Homo sapiens: one gene and its partners. The protein of the gene in region 1 purifies or fractionates together with the protein of each later gene. This does not show direct contact. Each region holds a gene or a part of one and is shown in the gene's direction. Other genes may lie near its edges.

The links.
Region 2: the proteins of CALR3 (region 1) and FREM2 purify together in Homo sapiens (affinity purification with mass spectrometry, with the first as the bait; one large-scale study listed by BioGRID). This does not show direct contact.
Region 3: the proteins of CALR3 (region 1) and RAB6B purify together in Homo sapiens (affinity purification with mass spectrometry; one large-scale study listed by BioGRID and IntAct). This does not show direct contact.
Region 4: the proteins of CALR3 (region 1) and PNPT1 purify together in Homo sapiens (affinity purification with mass spectrometry; one large-scale study listed by BioGRID and IntAct). This does not show direct contact.

Annotation. Positions count from the first base shown.
Region 1 is NC_000019.10:16,481,731-16,486,827, reverse strand, and holds part of CALR3 (calreticulin-3 precursor), read left to right. Parts: intron 1-1,570; coding exon 1,571-1,665; intron 1,666-2,712; coding exon 2,713-2,898; intron 2,899-4,042; coding exon 4,043-4,150; intron 4,151-4,246; coding exon 4,247-4,378; intron 4,379-5,097. UniProt on the Homo sapiens protein: During spermatogenesis, may act as a lectin-independent chaperone for specific client proteins such as ADAM3. Required for sperm fertility. CALR3 capacity for calcium-binding may be absent or much lower than that of CALR.
Region 2 is NC_000013.11:38,871,475-38,876,571, forward strand, and holds part of FREM2 (FRAS1-related extracellular matrix protein 2 precursor), read left to right. Parts: intron 1-1,267; coding exon 1,268-1,460; intron 1,461-3,007; coding exon 3,008-3,112; intron 3,113-4,547; coding exon 4,548-4,675; intron 4,676-4,773; coding exon 4,774-4,908; intron 4,909-5,097. UniProt on the Homo sapiens protein: Extracellular matrix protein required for maintenance of the integrity of the skin epithelium and for maintenance of renal epithelia. Required for epidermal adhesion. Involved in the development of eyelids and the anterior segment of the eyeballs.
Region 3 is NC_000003.12:133,885,111-133,890,207, reverse strand, and holds part of RAB6B (ras-related protein Rab-6B), read left to right. Parts: intron 1-4,542; exon of another isoform or gene 4,543-4,642; coding exon of another isoform or gene 4,643-4,673; intron 4,674-5,097. UniProt on the Homo sapiens protein: The small GTPases Rab are key regulators of intracellular membrane trafficking, from the formation of transport vesicles to their fusion with membranes. Rabs cycle between active GTP-bound and inactive GDP-bound states.
Region 4 is NC_000002.12:55,682,960-55,688,056, reverse strand, and holds part of PNPT1 (polyribonucleotide nucleotidyltransferase 1, mitochondrial precursor), read left to right. Parts: intron 1-351; coding exon 352-412; intron 413-1,612; coding exon 1,613-1,687; intron 1,688-3,008; coding exon 3,009-3,114; intron 3,115-4,222; coding exon 4,223-4,272; intron 4,273-5,097. UniProt on the Homo sapiens protein: RNA-binding protein implicated in numerous RNA metabolic processes. Catalyzes the phosphorolysis of single-stranded polyribonucleotides processively in the 3'-to-5' direction. Mitochondrial intermembrane factor with RNA-processing exoribonulease activity.

The DNA of each region.
Region 1 (5,097 bases):
AGCCATTAGTGTGAGGGGAGCTTGCTGAGGGTGAGGGGTTAAGGAGGAGGACAAGGGAAGCACAGTTATTGTCAGTCTTGACATTTGCATGAATTCCTATGCATAAGTTATGCATAAAACCTCAGACAGGCAACACAGAGCCCATCTGTCTACATTTCCTCATGAACATCCATTACATGTGTAAATACCTTTTTTTTTTTTTTTTTTTGAGATAGAATCTTGCTCTGTCACCCAGGCTGGAGTGCAATGGTGCAATCTCGGCTCATTGCAACCTCCGCCTCCCAGGTTCAAGCCATTCTCCTGCCTCAGCCTCCCCAATAGCTGGGATTACAGGCGTGTGCCACCATGGCTGGCTAATTTTTGTATTTTTAGTAGAGGTGGGGTTTCACCATGTTAGTCAGGCTGGTCTCGAACTCCTGACCTCGTGATTCACCCGCCTCAGCCCCCCAAAGTTCTGGGATTACAGCCGTGAGCCACCATGCCCAGCCCACACTTTTTTTTTTTTTTTAATTGAGACGGAGTCTCGCTTGGTCACCCAGGCTGGAGTACAGTGGCCCGATCTCAGCTCACTGCAACCTCCACTTCCTGGGTTCAAGTGATCCCCTCACCTCAGCCTCACAGGTCCCTGGGACTACAGGGACACGCCACCACTCCCAGCTAATTTTTGTATTTTTAGTACACACGGGGTTTTACCATGTTGGCCAGGCTGGTCTCAAACTGGCCTCAAGTCATCTCCCCACCTTGGCCTCCTAAAGTGCTGGGATTAGCAGGCCACTTTGAATATTTAAATAAGCTTCAGAACACACTCAAAAGTGAGTGGAAAGCCAGGACATTGTCCTTTAACAACAATAATAAGATATTCACACATGTGACCAGATGCAGTGGCTCACACCTATAATCTCAGCACTTTGGGAGGCCAAGGCAGGCAAATCACTTGAGGTCAGGAGTTTGAGACCAGCCTAGCCAACATGGCAAAACCTGTCTCTACTAAAAACACAAAAATTAGCTGGGCCTGGTGGTACATGCCTGTAATCACAGCTATTCTACTCGGGAGGTTGATGCAGGAGAATCACTTAAACCCGGGAGGCGGAGACTGCAGTGAGCCAAGATCCCACCACTGCACTCCAGCCTGGGCGACAGAGTGAGACTCTGTCTCAAATAAATAAATAAATATCTTAGTGTGAATATCTGATTATATGTAAGAAGAATGGACTGCACGTGGTGTTTCAAGCCTGTAATCCTAGGACTTTGGGAGGCCGAGGCAGGTGGATCACAAGGTCAGGAGTTTGAGACCAGCCTGGCCAGCATGGTGAAACCCCATCTCTACTAAAAATACAAAAATTAGCTGGGCATCGTGGCATGCGCCTGTAGTCCCAGCTACTCAGGAGGCTGAGGCAGGAGAATTGCTTGAACCCAAGAGGCAGAAGTTTCCGTGAGCCAAGATCACTGCACTCCAGCCTGGGTGACAGCAAGACTCCGTCTCAAAAAAAAAAAAAGAATGGTTGTGGGTTGGTTATTCTACGGTGATGCATTATGGAAAGAAATTGAGAGCAGCTAATCTTTTTTGTAGGACCCGATATTTGTGGATTTGATATCAAGAAAGTTCATGTTATTTTACATTTCAAGAATAAGTATCACGAAAACAAGAAACTGATCAGGTGTAAGGTAACTGCTCTTGTATTCAAATAAATGAGTGTTAACTCCTGCCAGACTAAGTTTAGAAAAAATAGTTTTGATAATAAAATACTTAACTGAGCCAGGGATGGGTCTTTGTAGACATACCTCCTGTTTCCAGTTTCCAGTTTAGGGGGCCCATTGGAGATACTTCTCTCCTTTAACTGGTTTCCTGAAGTTTTTACCCCATCAGGAGGGCACTCTCATTTTTTACTGTGAGCTATGACATGTCATCATTTGCCCTATGAGGGTTACAATAGTACAGTCACATTTCAGCCACATCCATCCTCATTAATGAATGAAATATTCAGGATGAAAAAAACATTCTGGAGAAATGTCTGGGTGCAGTGGCTCACACCTGTAATCCCAGCAGTTTGGGAAGCTGAGGCAGGAGGACTGCTTGAGCCAAGGAGTTCAAGACCAGCCTGGGCAACATGGCGAAATCTTGTCATGACAAAAAATACAAAAATTAGCCAGGTGTAGTGCCAGGAACCTGTGGTCCCAGCTACTGGGGAGGCTGAGGTGGGAGGGTCACTTGAGCCTGGGAGGTCAAGGTTGTAGTGAGCTCTGATTGCACCACTGCACTCCAGCCTGGGTGACAGAGCAAGACCCTGTCTCAAAAAAATAAAAATAAAAATAAACTGCATATTTAGACTTGCATTAAAACATCGAGAGTTGGCCGGGCGTGGTGGCTCATGCCTGTAATCCCAGCACTTTGGGAGGCTGAGGCAGGTGGATCACCTGAGGTCAGGAGTTCGAGACCAGCCTGGTCAACATGGTGAAACTCTGTCTCTACTAGACACAAAAAATTACCCAGGCATGGTGGCAGGTGCCTGTAATCCCAGCTTCTCAGGAGGCTGAGGCAGTAGAATCGCTTGAACTCAGGAGGTGGAGGTTGTAGTGAGCCGAGATTGTGCCACAGCGCTCCAACCTGGGCGACAGAGTGAGACTCCATCTCAAAAAAAAAAAAAAAAAGAAAAGAAAAGAAAAAAGAAATTGAGGATTTAATTGTTACGCTTTTCCCCCTAAAATATGCAGGTTGATGGCTTCACACACCTGTACACTCTAATTTTAAGACCAGATCTTTCTTATGATGTGAAAATTGATGGTCAGTCAATTGAATCCGGCAGCATAGAGTACGACTGGAACTTAACATCACTCAAGAAGGAAACGTCCCCGGCAGAATCGAAGGATTGGGAACAGACTAAAGACAACAAAGCCCAGGTGTGAATTTTTCCTGGGCAACTCTAAAAAGTGCACAAATGTAGTTTGTAAGTACCCAGTTACTGGACAATTGCTGCATGGCTGGTAGCCACGATGGCAATATTATAGAACCAAATGCCCTCCCCAGAGCACACACTGCAGACCAGCCACATCTCTACACATCTGAAGGTATCGTAAAACATTTATTTATTTACTTATTTATTTATTTTTTGAGACAGAGTTTCGTTCTTCTTGCCCAGGCTGGAGTGCAGTGGCGTGATCTCAGCTCACGGCAACCTCCGCCTCCCAGGTTCAAGTGATTCTCCTGCCTCAGCCTCCCGAATACCTGGGATTACAGGCACCCGCCACCATCCCTGGCTAATTTTTGTATTTTTAGTAGAGATGGGGTTTCACCATGTTGGCCAGGCTAGTCTCGAACTCCCGACCTCAAGTGATTTGCCTGCCTTGGCCTCCCAAAGTGCTGGGATTACAGGTGTGAGCCACCACATCTGGCCATCACCATCACTTTTTGCACCATCATTTTTCACTCTAGCCACTACTTGAGGTTTCCACACCGCTGCTCCTCTCCATAGCATGCAGGAAAGGGCTAAAGTCATATGGCAGGTTAGGGAGAAAAATCTAGGCAGTGTGGTGTTGCCCTGAAGTCCTCAGTGGGATTGGAAGCACCAAGCACTTGGCCTCCTGACCACCAAACTGAAGAAGGGAGAGGGACACTGGGACAGGGGTCACCAGCCTGTGCCTGCCACTTGGCATCTAATAATTTCCTTTCTCAAATCTGAGCATCTGGCTGGGTGTGGTGGCTAATGCCTGTAATACCAGCACTTCCAGAGGTCAAGGCAGGAGGATCGCTTGAACCCAGGAGTTCGAGACCAGCCTGGGCAACAGAGGGAGACCCTGACTGTACAAAACATAAAAATAGTAGCCAGGTATGATGGCGGGCGCCTGTAGTCCGAGCTACTTGGGAGGCTGAGGCAGGAGGATCACTGGAGCCCAAGAGGTTGAGGCTGCAGTGAGCCATGATTGCACAACCGCACTCCAGCCTGGGTGAGAGCAAAACCTAGTCTCAAGAAACAAAAACAGAAGCAACAACAACAAATATATGAGCATCTGACTGATTTTACTTTTTCCTTACATGTCTTTGAAGGACTGGGAGAAGCATTTTCTGGACGCCAGCACCAGCAAGCAGAGCGACTGGAACGGTGACCTGGATGGGGACTGGCCAGCGCCGATGCTCCAGAAGCCCCCGTACCAGGTGTGTGGCCTCTTTGTATGATGCCAGGGATGCCCCAGGGCTGCCCCTCCGCTGCCCATGTCATTGAGACCACCCCATATGGTTTTTTTGATACAGGATGGCCTGAAACCAGAAGGTATTCATAAAGACGTCTGGCTCCACCGTAAGATGAAGAATACCGACTATTTGACGCAGTATGACCTCTCAGAATTTGAGAACATTGGTGCCATTGGCCTGGAGCTTTGGCAGGTCATTTGGTTTTAACTTTACTTTAGATTTTTTGCGTGTGTGTGTTTTGTTTTGTTTTGTTTTGTTTTGTTGAGACAGGGTCTCATTCTGTCACCTAGGCTGGAGTGCAGTGGCACCATCCTAGCTCACTGTAGCCTCAAACTAGGCCCAAGCGATCCTCCCACCTCAGCCTCCCAAGTAGCTAGGACTACAGGCACAAGCCACCACATCCAGATTTTTTTTTTTTAAGAAATGGGAGTCTAGGCTGTGCGCGGTGGCTCACTCCTGTAATCCCAGCACTTTGGGAGGCTGAGGCGGGTGGATCACAAGGTCAGGAGATCGAGACCATCCTGGCTAACATGGTGAAACCCCGTCTCTACTAAAAATACAAAAAAAATTAGCCGGGCGTGGTGGCGGGCGCCTGTAGTCCCAGCTACTCGGGACGCTGAGGCAGGAGAATGGCGTGAACCCGGGAGGCAGAGCTTGCAGTGAGCTGAGATCGGGCCACTGCACTCCAGTCTGGGTGACAGAGCAAGACTCCGTCTCAAAAAAAAAAAAAAAAAAAAGAGATGGGAGTCTCAGAACTTCTAGGCTCAAGCAGTCCTTCCACCTCAGCCTTCCAAAGTGCTGAGAGTTTTGTTTGTTTTTTTGTTTTAATGCTTTGGTGATCCCAGCTGGGCTCAGTGGCTCATGCCTGTAATCCCAGCACTTTGGGAGGCTGAGGGGGGCAGATTGCCTGA
Region 2 (5,097 bases), on another chromosome or scaffold:
TATTTTGAGAATGAAATATGATAGCCTTTGTTAGATGACCTTAGGACTGCCTTCATCTTTGTTTGGAATACGATGAAGTAAGACAGAATAGAAAAAAAACATGGGCCAAAAGCTGAGTTCTGATCTTGTCCGAGCCATTCAGGAGGTTTAGAGAATACTGTGGGACATTTACCTTTTTCCTTTGAGTCTTAATTTTATCTTTGTCTCTTTCTATCCGTCATCCATTGACCATCCAACTATCCATCCATACATGCAAAATAATTATGGTGGAGAGTGAAAATATTAAATAGTGTTTATTCAGAAACTAGTACAGTTTCTGAAATATGGTAAGTACTCAATATATAAATATTAGTTTATCCTCCACTATTCCCAACCCATCTGCTAAACACCAGAAGGAGGAAAGTATAAAATTCAAGGCAAGACACTTCATTTCAACTAATTATTCTTGAGATATTATAAATGTTATATGTTATTAGTAAATATATTTGCTTCCAGATCTATGTTTCATATTCCCTTAATAAAAAAGTAGCTCATAGCAGCATTTTTTATAATAGCCAAAAACTGGAAACAACCCAAATGGCCATGAAGTGATAAATAGATAAATGAAATGTAATATGTGCATACAATGGGCTGCAATTCATTAACAGGGGAATTAAGTATTGAAACGTGCTCAAACATGGATGCACCTTGAAAACATTATGCTAAATGAAAGAAATCTATCACAAAAAAACACATTTTGTATGATTCCATTTATATGAAATGTCCAGGATAGACAAATACATAAAGACCTAGTGGTTTCCAGGGACTGACGGGGAGGAGGGATTGGGGGTGACTGCTAATAAGTACAGGCTTCCTTTTGGAGGTGATGAAAATCTTCTAAAATTGATTGTGTTGGTTGCACAGCTCCTTAAATATACTAAGAACCATTGAACTGTTTACTTTAAATAGGTGAATTACATGGTATGTAAACTATCTTCATAAAACTGCTCTAAAGAGGATTTTGTAAGTATAGTATGCTCAAAATAATGCACTGTCTTAAGGATTTCTGGTACATATCCTTTGTTGCCAATGAAGGTAATTAGTAACAACTATTTAATCGATCCAAAATTAAGTGAGGGGAAAATAGTGTTATAAAATGCTGTCATTTCCTCTTCTCAATGATTACTCAAAATCTTCAGTTAAGCGAAAAGAGAAAATGGCTTGTACAAAATTAGGCCCACTTAGTTAACACTGAGTCATGTTGATTGATGTAATTTTGTTGTTTTAGGTCCTAAACCTAGTGCAGTCCTATGTGACCCTTCGAGTCCCTCTGTATGTTTCCTACGTGTTCCATTCCCCCGTGGGGGTAGGAGGCTGGCAGCATTTTGACTTGAAGTCAGAGCTTCGTCTAACTTTTGTGTACGACACCGCCATCTTGTGGAATGATGGAATTGGCAGCCCCCCAGAGGCTGAACTTCAAGGTGAGTTCAGAAGACTTGGAAAATTCTATAGTTTTGTAACCTATTTAAACTATTTAAGACGATTTTTTTTTGCCATTGCTAAAAGTAGTACTAGCAAATTTCAGTATATTTTCATTTTCTATCTATAATAAGATAATTTCACCTTTTTCATCAAAAAACTCTTTAAACCATATTAGGGCTTTAAATTTTGTGCAATATGTGATTATTAAATATGACTTTATATATTTCATGGATATTTTATCCTTGCGATCTATTTTAGGTGATTAATTATTTATGTGTTACATAACACAACATATATATTTTTCTGAATTCTAGAAAATGGATAGAGGAAGCTCCAACGAAAGCAAGAAATGACCAAGGGAAAAAGTTACACATTTTTATTTCTGAAAAAAAGAGGTGCATTTAAATTAAATACAAATTATGGCCTGAATTCTAGTCATGACTCTACAACTAACTAGCTGTGAGATCTCAAGCATATTGCTTAACCTTTCTGGGACTTAACTTTTTCTGAATGATAGACACAACTTCTAATATCTCTTTCTGATGTAAAATTCTATTACTCTGGGGTACTTTAGTTGAATGTCTGCGAACTCGGATTGTGAATGCCACTAGTTCGAGTTCGCGAGCATTTGCAAAACTTGGTTTCAATCTCCATGTTAGACTCATAGTTCAAAGTCCACAAGCATCAATCTAATCCATTAGTAGGACGAGTGCTTTTTCTTTTTCAGACATGTATTACTGTTCCGATTCCACAAACATCCATAGTGTCATGCCAGTACTGCATTTTACTAGCCAGCAGGAAAACAGAGTTAATAGTGCACCTCAAATGTAAATCTACTCTCTTAAGTGGATTAAAACCTATTTATGCTCTGTTCATTTTGTTGTTGTCTTTTTTTCTCCATGTTTCATTTTGAATAGTTTCTATTTTAGAGCTATGTGACAGGTAATATGATAACCCTGAGTTATGATTCCAAATTATTTCAAATGTTTTAAGTCCGTGTCTTGTTTTAGAAGATGTATATTTAAGTTAATCTTAATGAGGATTTTTCTGTGGTTCCCAACCTCCACATAGGATCTCTTGTTTCCATCTGATTTCTGGAGCCAAATTTTATCAAACTGCTAAATTTCTTGGGAAAGCTTCAGAGGTTTCTTTAAGTCTATAAAATTAGGAATAATTCTGGATAACTCAAACCTATTTCTATTTACATGTCCGAATCTCCATCATTTTGACAATTTTGTCATGCCTCTCAATTTACAGCTTCATTTTTATAAACTCAGATTTTAAAAAAACTTGGTCTATTGTAAGTAATCTGTGTATTTCATAGTGACTTCACTCATGTTACTTAATAATTCATTTTGGCTCCCTTTTCTGCTTAGAAAAGAAAATGAAGATACTTCTGCCTCTGTTATTCAGAATTCTTCTGATAATACCCTTTGCCCAGAATGTTTAAAGACAAGTCAAACCTGAATTAATTTTTGGAAGGAATCTGTACATAAGGGGTCTCTGGCTACATATATTTTCATTCTTGGTACTCTCCCCATTATAGGTTCTCTCTATCCAACCAGCATGCGCATCGGTGATGAGGGGCGCTTGGCCGTGCACTTCAAGACAGAGGCTCAGTTCCATGGCTTATTTGTGCTGTCACATCCCGGTAAGCCCCGTTATCTTTTAACAACCACTCCTCACACAAAAAGGAGGTAGATTTTCCATCTTCACACATTTCAGCGTGCTTCTCTGTTACCACTGAAGCCCTTAATCTCAAATGAATTGTACATGTGGGATTATCTCCATGAGAGCTTGATAATTGTTCAGCTTCACCTCATAATCCACAAAATTATCATTATGCAGACTTTCAGAGAAAATGCAAAATAATTAGAGTAAAATTAAAAGGAAACCCTATTGAGTTCATTTTAAGTAAAGTTTTCCTTAAAGAGCATAGGAATAATCATTTCTTTCTCTGCTTTGCTTCCATTGTACAAATCGAATTGCAGATGATTCATTCAGCAAGCACTTCTCTTTTCACAGCTTTTTGCTAGGTACTGTGAGAAACCCTTTTAATAGGGTCAGAGGAGGTACTTCACTTTCATATTTAAGTTTTGGACATGTTAATTATGTTTAATAAGTATTGGCTATGCAATTTTACTAACTGTGATTCGCTGTGCTTTGAATATCAACAAGGCAGCAGTCGATAAAATCCCACGTCTAACTTCATTTGTTTTTTGTTTTTTTTTAACAAGGACATTTCACTAGAAAGAGCTTATTTTTTATTTGACTCTCCATATTACCAGTTTAGTAACATGGAGAGTCAAATAAAAAATAAGCCATTTTTCTGCCAGCTTATATTAGATTGGGAAAGGGAAAATAGTTCACTCAACATCTTTATAGCTTTTCTTTTTCTGGACTTGAACTCTAACAAAAGAGAATAGGGCTGAATAATTAGGAAGAGAAAGAGGCTTCATTGTATTTTTATGGAACTGAGCTACAAGAAAGAAAGAACCCAAAAAAATCATTTTGCTTTATTGTATTTGACAGTTCTGGAAAATGAGGATTTTCTGGTCTATACAGTTTTCTTCTACATGCCTACCTTTCTAATAAACTGAATCTTTGTGTAGCCATGATTGCAGGCAATCTAACTAAAATCAGACTCCATTCATAAATTGGGTTTGCCCAGCTGTGTGGATACTAATAGACTATTTTAAGTTCAGCTCGTAACTTCAGTGCACAATAAATGCATTCACATCACCCTTTATTGTGCTGCTGTGACTCCCCAGAAAGTAGCTCTGAACAATTTGAGCATTTCTGTACAATTATCTTTTGACAAAACTATAGAGCAGAAACAGTACTGAAGTAGGAATCAGAAAGTCACATCCTAGCTGTGTGATCTTTGGAAAGTCACACAGTCACTCACAGCCCAGTTTCTTCATCTGCCAGAGGAGGATAATTATACTAACCATGACTGCTTTGCAGCCTTCTTATAAAAACAGAAGCAAATAATGTATGATCATTTATTTTGAAAACTCTAAACTGTTATGCACTCTTTTAATTGAACCACTATATCATTATTATAATTACTGGCACTTTCCTAGCATCCTTTACAAGCTCAGTGATCATGTCAGCTGATCATCCAGGCCTGACATTTTCCCTCCGCCTCATAAGGAGTGAACCAACCTATAACCAGCCAGTACAGCAGTGGAGCTTTGTCTCTGACTTTGCCGTAAGTGACTAAGACTCTTAATTAATTTTCTTCTGCTGCTGCCATCTGATTACACCTCAGATTTTTAAATGTAATATATCAATATCTTCTCCTCAAAGGTACGTGACTACTCAGGGACCTATACTGTGAAGCTGGTGCCATGCACTGCCCCATCACATCAGGAATACCGCCTGCCAGTCACCTGCAACCCCAGAGAACCTGTCACCTTTGACCTTGACATCCGATTCCAACAGGTGTGGCTTATAGAATTACTATCTTATGACTTGCAGAATCCCACTTTGTTTTTCATTTATTAGTAAAAAAAAAAAAAATCCACACGTGAATGACTTTAATTCTTGCATGCTGAAAAGAAAAGAAATCAGACAGTTAAGGAAGCTAGGGATAAAAGAATGAGGAGAGATTTGCCCTTTATCTGTTGTTAG
Region 3 (5,097 bases), on another chromosome or scaffold:
ACCAGAGGTGGAAAGGGACACACCAGACCTCAGCTTGCCAGAGCTCACTTTGACATCTGGAAGAAATCACCCTGTTGCCCTGAGCCTTAGCTTCCTTCTCTTGATTTCTCTCCTCCCAATTTTTCTCCTTTCCTCAGTGGCTGGCATAAGAAGGGGCACCTTTGTGGAGGTTGGGTACAGGCCCAGAACCTTTGCTTTTTTATTTGTTTAAACAGATGTGTGTGAGTGAGAGAGTCAGACAGACACCAGGATGAGAATTAACCTGTACTTGGTATAAGAGGAAGGTGGCACCTTTAATCTGATGATGCATAGCAAGAGAACTTGCCAGCAAAGAAAAAAGAAACTTAGAATATGTTCTGGCTGCGTAGATGTAATAATAATTACTGTCTTTTGCATGATCTGATGATCATTATCATTTGCAGCCCCCAGATTATAATGAATCACATTAAATTATAACAAAATAAGGCTGGGCGTGGTGGCTTACGCCTGTAATCCCAGCACTTTGGGAGACCAAGGTGGCAAGGTGGGTAGATCACTTGAGGTCAGGAGTTCGAGACCAGCCTGGCCAACGTGGCAAAATCCTGTCTCTACTAAGAAGTACAAACATTAGCCAGGCATGGTGGCGCATGCCTATAATCCCAGCTACTTGGGAACCTGAGGCAGGAGAATCGCTTGAACCCGGGAGGCGGAGGTTTCAGTGAGCCGAGATGGCACCACTGCACTCCACCCTGGGCAACAGAGCAAAACTCCATCCCAAAATAAATATATATATATATATATATATATATATATATATATATATATATATATATATATATAACAAAATAACCTTATTGTCCTTTTGTTCCTTATTCTATCCCTAAAATCAGTCTATGACTATCTTTATAGATGTTGCCCCGACATTGCAAACTTTGCAGACTGGCCGGGGCCAGGCCCAAGGGTGGTAACATTTGTATCCCATCCAGGCTGCAGATTTCCCCTGTCCTCCCCACCCAAGTCGTCCATTGTTGCCGAATGCATCGGCCATTGAATGTGTAGGGCTGTCTGGTTTCAGTGTGGTTAACTTTGGGAAATTATTGGACAGAACCACTGGGGAAGGTGACAGAAGGCTAGGTAGAACAGCAGAATTCATAAACATTCAGGGTGGACTACCGGGAAAGCTGATGGGCATTTTCTCTGCGTCTGCCATTCTTTTCCATTTCTCACCACAGGGAAGAGAAGCCGAGGGAGCTCTGGTGGAGGTTGCCAGGGAGAAGTACCAGACACGCCCTGAAATGGACAGCTTTTGTTAGGGTGGAAAGACAGGCTGCCAGGAAATGGGGCTCCAAGCAGGGCCTGGGGACTGGAAGCCCCTGGGAACTTGGAATGCCAGTCCAGTCTTTGTTTCCTAGAACAAGGGAAGGAAAAGATGAAGACTCACAACTCTTAAGGACTCCTAGGATGTTCTTTACCATATCTTGGGGCTTGAGATTTCAAAATTGTTTTCATTATTTTCATAACTTTTGCCCTAAACAAAGTAAGATCTTTTTAAAAAATATTGACTGATATACATAATTTAGCATTTTAATAAAGTGATTTATTTTTTGTAGAAAAACTTATTTATTCTGATCTCTTGGTAACAAGGCCAGAGGGAGCCCAGGTGACCAGATCACATGCTCTGGGCCAGCCATCACCTGTCCCAAGGGGCTGACATACCTAAGGGACAGGCCCAAGTCCTGAGGAGGCAGATGTTACCTCACCCCTGAGGGCAGAATAGAGCTTTCAAAGCAAAGGTTACTTCCAGGAAATGCATAAAAAGAATGGCAGCCTGTGTCCTTCCTCACATGAGTTCACTCACGTGGCATTTATTGAACATCCACTATGCCGGAGGCTCCACACAGGGCACTTTTTATCTTCCCAGCCACCCTGTGACGGATGTGGGATCATCCCTGTTTTGTGGGTCAGGAGGCAGAGGCTCAGAGAGAGCTGGCCCTGCCCAAGGACTCACTGTGAGTGTGGCAGAATTAGAATTCAGACCCAGGTCACTGTGAGAAACACAGTGGACTATCAGACCTCTTGCCTCAAAGGCAGCTTCTGGCCTAGGACTGGAGCGGAGGAGACAGAAGAACACTGAGGTCTTCTGGACACGAGGTCTGCTGTGCATGACTCGTGGGGAGTGTTTGTGCCAAGCTCTTTGCTAAAGAGGAACCTGCGGGGCCCTGAGCAGGGAGGAGGGAAGCAGGGTCTCCGTGTGGGAGCTGCTGGAGCTGGTCTTGCACAGCAGGCACCCTGTTCTTCCATTTGTGGTGCTTTGAAGGGAGTTGATAGAGCCTATGGGGGCAGCTAAATCCCTCCCAAGTCAGCCCTCAGCCCACTGCCATGGTTCTAGCTGAGAACTAATTACTAACCAGGGAAGAACCAATTAAACTAAATGGCTGGTTCCCACCTACTCTGGGGTAACCCTTTCCTGGCCACATCCTCCCTTCTGGCTTGGAGATACCAGGGCCCTGAAGACCCTGATTCTATTCCCGGTCTGTCACTGGCTGGCTGTATGTTGGATAAGCCCCAGCCCATCTCTGGCTTTCTCCGTGTATCCCCTCAAGGCTACTGGGCTGGGTGACCCCTTGGGCCAGTGGAGCTCTAACTCTGGTTCTGCAATTCAGTGCCAGCTCTGAGTATGAGGCCAAGCCAATAACACTCCCAGCCTGGAGACAAGCATGCTGCTGGTGAGAGGGGCTGCAGGAGTGAGATGGGGGATCAGGGGCTCTGCGACTGTTGCCCCCAGAACTGTCCTGGGTCCCACATGCAGGATCTTCTCCAGCCTACCACCTCCTCTCCTGGGAGGCATTCCTGGCCCCCTACACCTGAGTGCAACCCTCCCTGGGGGCACAATGTGGGGGAGGGGCATGCTGGCTCCCTTCTTCTGAAGATGTGCTTGGCTCTGGTTGCCAAGCAACAAGGATGGGGCTATCCTGCACTTCTGCTTCCAGGAGGTGTGTCTTCCACACAGAGAGGAACCATGATTAGGACGACAGGGCAGGTGACACCTCCCAGGTGCTCCTAGCCCAGGGGCACCCCTTTCCACAGCCTGGTGGGAGGGGTAAGCTGGGAGGGCAGGGAAAGGACAGAGCCAAGAGGGGTATATGGTGTCCCCAGCAGACCTAGGAGGGCTTAGAGACCCGGCCCCAGCCCCAGCTCCCACCCCCACCCCATCACCATATTGGTCCTCCTGCATCCTGGGCTTCCACCTCAGCCCACCCCTCTGCTGAATGGATGGTGTTGGTGTGCAATGGCACCACCTGTGCTCATTTTCCTCACCTGTGCAGGAAGTTGATCATTACCTTGTTGGGGTTCCAGGAAGATCAAGTACATCTATACATGGCATGTGATTAAGGCTCACATGATAAAAGCTCAGGTGATAGGTAATTTTGTTAATGAAATAGTAACAGCAATCTCCATCTCCTCCCTCATTGCAGAAGTAGGGTGCGAGATTTTGAGAATCATTGATCATTTCTGTATTGTGAACTGTGGGGTCTACATCCTCGTGATCTGGCAGGAAGAGCTGCTCATCCCATTTTATAAAGAAAGCGAAGGTCTGCCAGGTGAAGGCTTTTACACAGATGGAAGGACCCTTTGACTCCCTGGCCAGTGTTTTCCCCAGCTCCCCATCCCTGCTCAGAGACAGGCTGGCAAAAAGTGGGACAGACTCACCATGCCTGCTCCTCTGGGGCCACCAAACCTGCTCAGGGGAAGAGTACCTCATCTTCACAGCTCCGTTACTTCCTGTAAGGAGCTCAGCCAGGGTGGAGTATAAGGGCAGAGGCTTTGCAGCATTGGGGTTATATGCCTTCAGATGTGTGAGGTCGGTAGTACTTGGCCCACAATAAGCAGGCAACAAATCTCAGCCAGTATTAAGATTAGTATTACATACACAAGCAAGGCTATGGGCGTGATGTGCTTGGAGGAGTCAGGGAAGGCTTTCTGGAGGAGGTTTTGCATAGTGAGCAGGAACTCACCAGCAAAGAAGGGGAGGCACTGAGGGCAGAGGGCCTGACCATGCCCAGGCAGTGAAAGGCTTGGGGTTTCTGGGGAATCGGGTGTGGTTCAGGGTGGTGGGATTCTGGTGCGGGTGGAGAAATAGTGGGGGAGAAGGGGTTGAGCCTGGGGGAGTCAGTAGGGTCAGGCCCTGGAGGACCTCCCTGCAGGCAGTGGGGATCCACTGGGGAGTTTTGACCCAGAGGGACATGCTCATGGATTAGAAGGTGAAGGCAGAATGTGTTCTGATTGGAGGCAGGAGATCCAGGTGGCTGAACTAGGTCAGAACAGAAACGTTCCGAGGATGGAATTTATAGAGAGGGCTTGTAAACTTAAGCTTCCTTCCAGTTCTGAAGCTCAGCTCCACTGCAGATGTATATTTTCTTGATTCTTTCTCTTAGAATGAGGCCTCAGGAACAATGAAGGATTGTAGGGGAGGGACTATTGTCTCTCTCTGCAAGGCCACACTGTACGCAGATGGACCAAAGCTAGCCCCTTTAAGCTCCCCTGTCCATCCTATCTCCACAGTGCCCTGGGTTCCCTGACTGCTCTGGCCTTCCATGGGTGTTCTGCGGGACTGCTGGCAGCCCTTCCGGACTCCTCCCTCTCTGCTACCTGCTCAGGTTGGATGTGGCATATGACCAGAAACTGGCCATTGGGTGTGTGAGCTCCCCTATCCTCTGGTCATTGGATGTGTGAGTCCCCCATCCTCTGGTCATTGGGTGTGTAAGTCCTCTGTCCTCTGGTCACTGGGTATGTGAGTTCCCGTCCTCTGATCATTAGTGTGTGAGCAGCCCATCCTCTGGCCATTGGATGTGTGAGTCCCCCGTCCTCTGGTCATTGGGTGTGTGAGTCCCCCGTCCTCTGGTCATTAGGTGTGTGAGTCCCCTATACTCTGGTCATTGGGTATGTGAGCCCTCCCTCCTCTGGTCATTGGGTGTGTGAGTTCCCGTCCTCTAATCATTAGTGTGCGAGCAGCCCATCCTCTGGCTGTTGGATGTGTGAGCCCCTTGTCCTCTGATCATTGGTGTGTGAGCAGCCCATCCTCTAGCCATTGGATGTGTGAGTTCCCCATCCTCTGGT
Region 4 (5,097 bases), on another chromosome or scaffold:
AAAAAAAAGAAAAGAAAAAGAAGATACAAGGCACAAAGACCACCCCCCACCTCAAAAAAAAAATAGATGGTACATGGGAATTAACATTTAGGGAAGCAGTTAACTTCTGAACCTCCAAAAGACTTTCCTGTTCAGATCAATCCTGTGCCTTGGTTTCCGTATTCTTCTTTAAGCCACTCTTAAATTCCACTTTTACTTTTGATAATGATCATGGATTCTGCCCCTTTTTGTTGGTGGAGTGGGTGGGTTGGGGGTTAGAATCTTCCCTTAGAATCTTTTATTATTTTATACTAAGCAGGAATTGTACAGATGACCTAAGTCTTCTTGTATTGCATTTTTATTTTTAAACAGGAAATTAGAAATATCTTCTGGAAAGCTGGCCAGATTTGCAGATGGCTCTGCTGTAGTACAGGTAAAAAGTCCAGATTTTTAAAATTCATCTTAAAAATGGTTACGGAGACTCATACTAAATGTGTAACTACAACATCGTGTAACTACTTAGAATTTTGGTACTGGAAATTAATTCAGATACTACTAAGATAATTTCTACTGCAAGAATCATTCCAGACAACCAGAGTCCAGAGCACTGCATGTATTAAGTGACCTATTTTTTTTTTTGAGGTGGACTCTTGCTCCATCTCCAGGCCGGAGTGCAGTGGTGCGATTTTGGCACACTGCAACCTCTGCCTCCTGGGTTCAAGCGATTCTTTTGCCTCAGCCTCCCGAGTAGCTGGGACTACAGGCGTGCACCACCACACCCAGCTAATTTTTGTATTTTTAGTAGAGACGGGGTTTCACCATGTTGGCCAGGATGGTCTCGATCTCTTTTTTTTTTTTTTTTTTGAGATGGAGTCTCACTCTGTTGCCCAGGCTGGAGTGCAGCGGCGCGATCTCGGTTCACTGCAACCTCCGCCTCCCAGGTTCACGCCATTCTCCTGCCTCAGCCTCCTTAGTAGCTGGGACCACAGGCACCTGCCACCACGCCCAGCTAATTTTTTGTATTTTTAGTAGAGTCGAGGTTTCACCGTGTTAGCCAGGATGGTGTTGATCTCCTGACCTCGTGATCCGCCTGCCTCAGCCTCCCAAAGTGCTGGGATTACAGACGTGAGCCACCGCGCCTGGCCTGGTCTCAATCTCTTGACCTCGTGATCCACCTGCCTTGCCCCCGCAAAGTGCTGCAATTACAAGTGTGAGCGACCGTGCCCAGCCGTATTAAGTGACGTTTAACATCCTTTCCAAACTTGGGCTTCTGTTTTATGCGTTAATAAATTCTGTTGTGCTTTTCTAGAGAAAGTGATTTTGGTATTTTCTTCTATAGTAATAATTGGGGAATTTTTCCTTATGTATAGCCACATAAGAAGTAGAGAATACTATTCAATTCATTGAATATGACTAAATTACCTGTTAATCTTTCCTTATTTTGATTCCATAGCTTTTGAAAAGCTCAGAGATCAAGATTGGACTACTTGTGAATATTTTTTATTTCATAATCGTGTCGTAGAATTAGATATCTTTTCTTGAGTTTAATTGGAGTAAGGATTTATTCAGTTGCTACTTAGATGCTAATATCTGATTTCAAAGGAACTTACCAGCGTTGTTCTTTATGTTTAAGTCAGGTGACACTGCAGTAATGGTCACAGCGGTCAGTAAAACAAAACCTTCCCCTTCCCAGTTTATGCCTTTGGTGGTAAGTATTTGCTGATTTATCTGAACTGTAATATGGTCTGAGTAAAGTGTAGAATGTATAATATTTTTGTCCAGTGTCTAGTGAGTGGAAAATACAAACTTGCACAACAAAGAATTTTTCCTAGTTTTTTGATACTGATTCATTAAAAGAGTATAAACTGCTTCATAAACAAATACTAGGATTAAGCATACTTTAGAATTTGGAACGTCCAGGTGCGTAAGTTGACAAGAAGATTGGAAGTGCATGAGTACTTTGACATTGAATAAGCAATGAATTCATTGCCCTCATAGTTTCCCTTCAGTATGACTCTGCAAGTACAGTCAGCCCTCCATGTCCTTGGGTTTTGCATCCATGGATTCAACCAACCATGGATCGAAAATATTGGGGGAAAAATTGCATCTGTACTGAATATGTACAGACTTTTTTTCTTGTCATTCCCTACGCAATACGGTATAAAAACTATTTATGTAGAATTTACATTGTATTAAGGATTATATGTAATCTAGAGATGATTTAAAGTATATGAGAGGATATACGTAAGTTATAAACAAATACTATGGTGTTTTACATCAAGGATTTGAGCATCCATGGATTTTGATATCTGCAAGAGGTCCTAGAACCAATCCCCCAGGGATACCAAGAGACAACTGTGTATATTTAGTAATGAGCTCATGAGAATTTTATAGCTCCCTTCTATTATGAAAAGGGGTGTACAATTATATTTAACAGAGTTGATACCAAAAAAAAGCAATGTTTGACTTGATCAGAATGAGCATCTGTGGCAAATAGTGAGTCTTCTTCCACTTTTACTGTTGAGTAGAAGACTTTTTTTTTTTTAAGAGACAGGGTCTTGCTCTGTCACCCAGGCTAGAGTTGTTCAGTGGTGTGATCATAGTTCACTGCAGCCTCAAACTCCTGGGCTTAAGCAATCCTCCCACCTCAGCCTTCTGAGTAGCTAGGACTATGGGCACAGGCCATTGTGCCCAACTAATTTTTTTTTTGTTGGGGGTAGAGACAAGGTCTTTCTGTGTTACCCAGGCAGTTCTAAAACCCTGGCCTCAAGTGGTCCTCCTGCTTTGGCCTCCCAAAGTGCTGGGATTACAGGCGTGAGCCACTGCACCTGAACGTTTTTTAAAATCACTTTGCAGAAACATTTCTATCAACTTTCCTCTCCCCAAAAGATACAAAATGCTAAGTAAATAACATTTTCTACTCTGAGTCTAGACTGTGTTGTTAGCAACCTCAGGAGAATTAGCATTCATACAGTATAGTTTGTTTCTGCAAAAAGAATTATATGAACTTTTTTTTATTGCTGCTTCAGGTTGACTACAGACAAAAAGCTGCTGCAGCAGGTAGAATTCCCACAAACTATCTGAGAAGAGAGATTGGTACTTCTGATAAAGAAATTCTAACAAGTCGAATAATAGGTAAGATATTAACATAGAGGCGTTCATCTTCTCTGGTATGCCTATGTTAGCATCTCTTCTCTTGCATCTGTGTTCTACAATAAGTCTTAAGTTTTCCTTCATAGCATTAACACCACCTAAGATTATTCACTCCTTCTCTTCCCTCACTCAAATGTGGGCACTGTGAAAGAAAAAACTTTTATTTCTTCAGGGTTGAATCCCTAGTACCTGTTATACTGCTTAGCACAGAATAGGCATTCAATAAATATTTGTTGACTAAATGAGTAAATCTCTATTGAGCATATGAATTTTTTGGCCCATGCCTCTACTTTGTTGAATCTATTCCTAGTACATTTTTTCATGTTCAGAATAGTAATTCCTAAACATTATGTTCATCAGCTACTGAAATATGTCCATAATCTTTCAAATCTTTAACATCCCTACATATTGTGGGATCATATGTAATTTATAGCTCTTCTACCCAGAAATTGCTTTTTTTTGAGACAGAGTCTTGCTCTGTCACCCAGGCTGGAGTGCAGTGGCACGATCTCGGCTCACTGCAACCTCTACCTCCCGGGTTCAAGTGATTGGGATTACAGGTGCCCACCACCATGCCTGGCTGATTTTTGTATTTTTAGTCAAGATGGGGTTTCTCCATTTTGGTCAGGCTGGTCTTGAACTCCTGACCTCGTGATCCACCCGCCTCAGCCTCCCAAGTGCTGGGATTGCAGGCGTGAACCACTGTGCTCGGCCAGAAATTGCTATTTTATGTATATTTATATACAGTCTTCAGACACAAAGTAGCAAGGAAGCATTTTCTTTTGGTCTGCTATTGGTCTTAAGTCTCTTTGCTCTGCTTATATATGTAACTGTTGCCTGTGGAACCAGAATGAAAAATTGCTCCCCAATCTTTATTGTTAATGTGCTTCTTCTGTGTTTGTTTTTTGTTGTTAGGGCATGGTATGTAATAATGGAAGCACTGACATTTATCTGTGTCCCTCTTAGTAAATCAGTCCAAGGGGATTTTTCTTGAAAACATATTGAATGGCTATCTATATTAGTTCAAACGTTTTGAACTGTAAAGCAACTCTGTCAGTACGGTTTAATGTGTTTTTTTTTCTTTTGGCAGATCGTTCAATTAGACCGCTCTTTCCAGCTGGCTACTTCTATGATACACAGGTAGATTCTGCTTTAGGTTTTTTAGTTGCCAGATCAATCAAAAATTACTTAATGAATCTCTGTAATATTTCCTAGAGTAAACATTATAAAGAACATAAGAATTTTTTATGATACTGTTATATTTTACATTACGTTTTTGAAAAAAGATAGTACTTTTTTTTTTTTTTTTTTTGAGACAGAGTCTCACTTTGTCGCCCAGGCTGGAGTGCAATGGCACGATCTCAGCTCACTGCAACCTCAATCTCCCAGGTTCAAGTGATTCTCCTGCCTCAGCCTCCTGAGTAGCTGGGATTACAGGCACGCACCACCATGCCCGACTAATTTTTGTATTTTTAATAGAGACCAGTTTTCACCATGTTGGTCAGGCTGGTCTTGAACTCCTGACCTTGTGATCCGCCCCCCTCGGCCTCCCAAAGTGCTAGGATTACAGGCGTGAGCCACTGTGCCTGGCCAAAAGATAGTGCTTTTAAAAAGCTAACATTTATTCAGTGTCTGTTTGAGTTGACACCTGAATTTCAGTAGGAGTTAGCCAACCAAGGTGTGTCAGGGAAGCATTGAAAGCCCAGAGGCAGGAAAGAAATTAATGAGTTTAAAAAGAAGATCAGCGTGACTACAGTGAGTGGAGACCAAATCAGGCTGGGAATAGGACAACTAACGTAACTAATTTTTATTACCTAATTTTATTGCTGGATCCTCTGAACCTCTACTTTATTATATTTTAATACTTCCTGAATAATACTTTCTTTCAGGATAATGACACATATACTTAAGTAACCATTTCATTCATTTGAAATAAATAAATACACCTTGCAAATATGCCTTTGC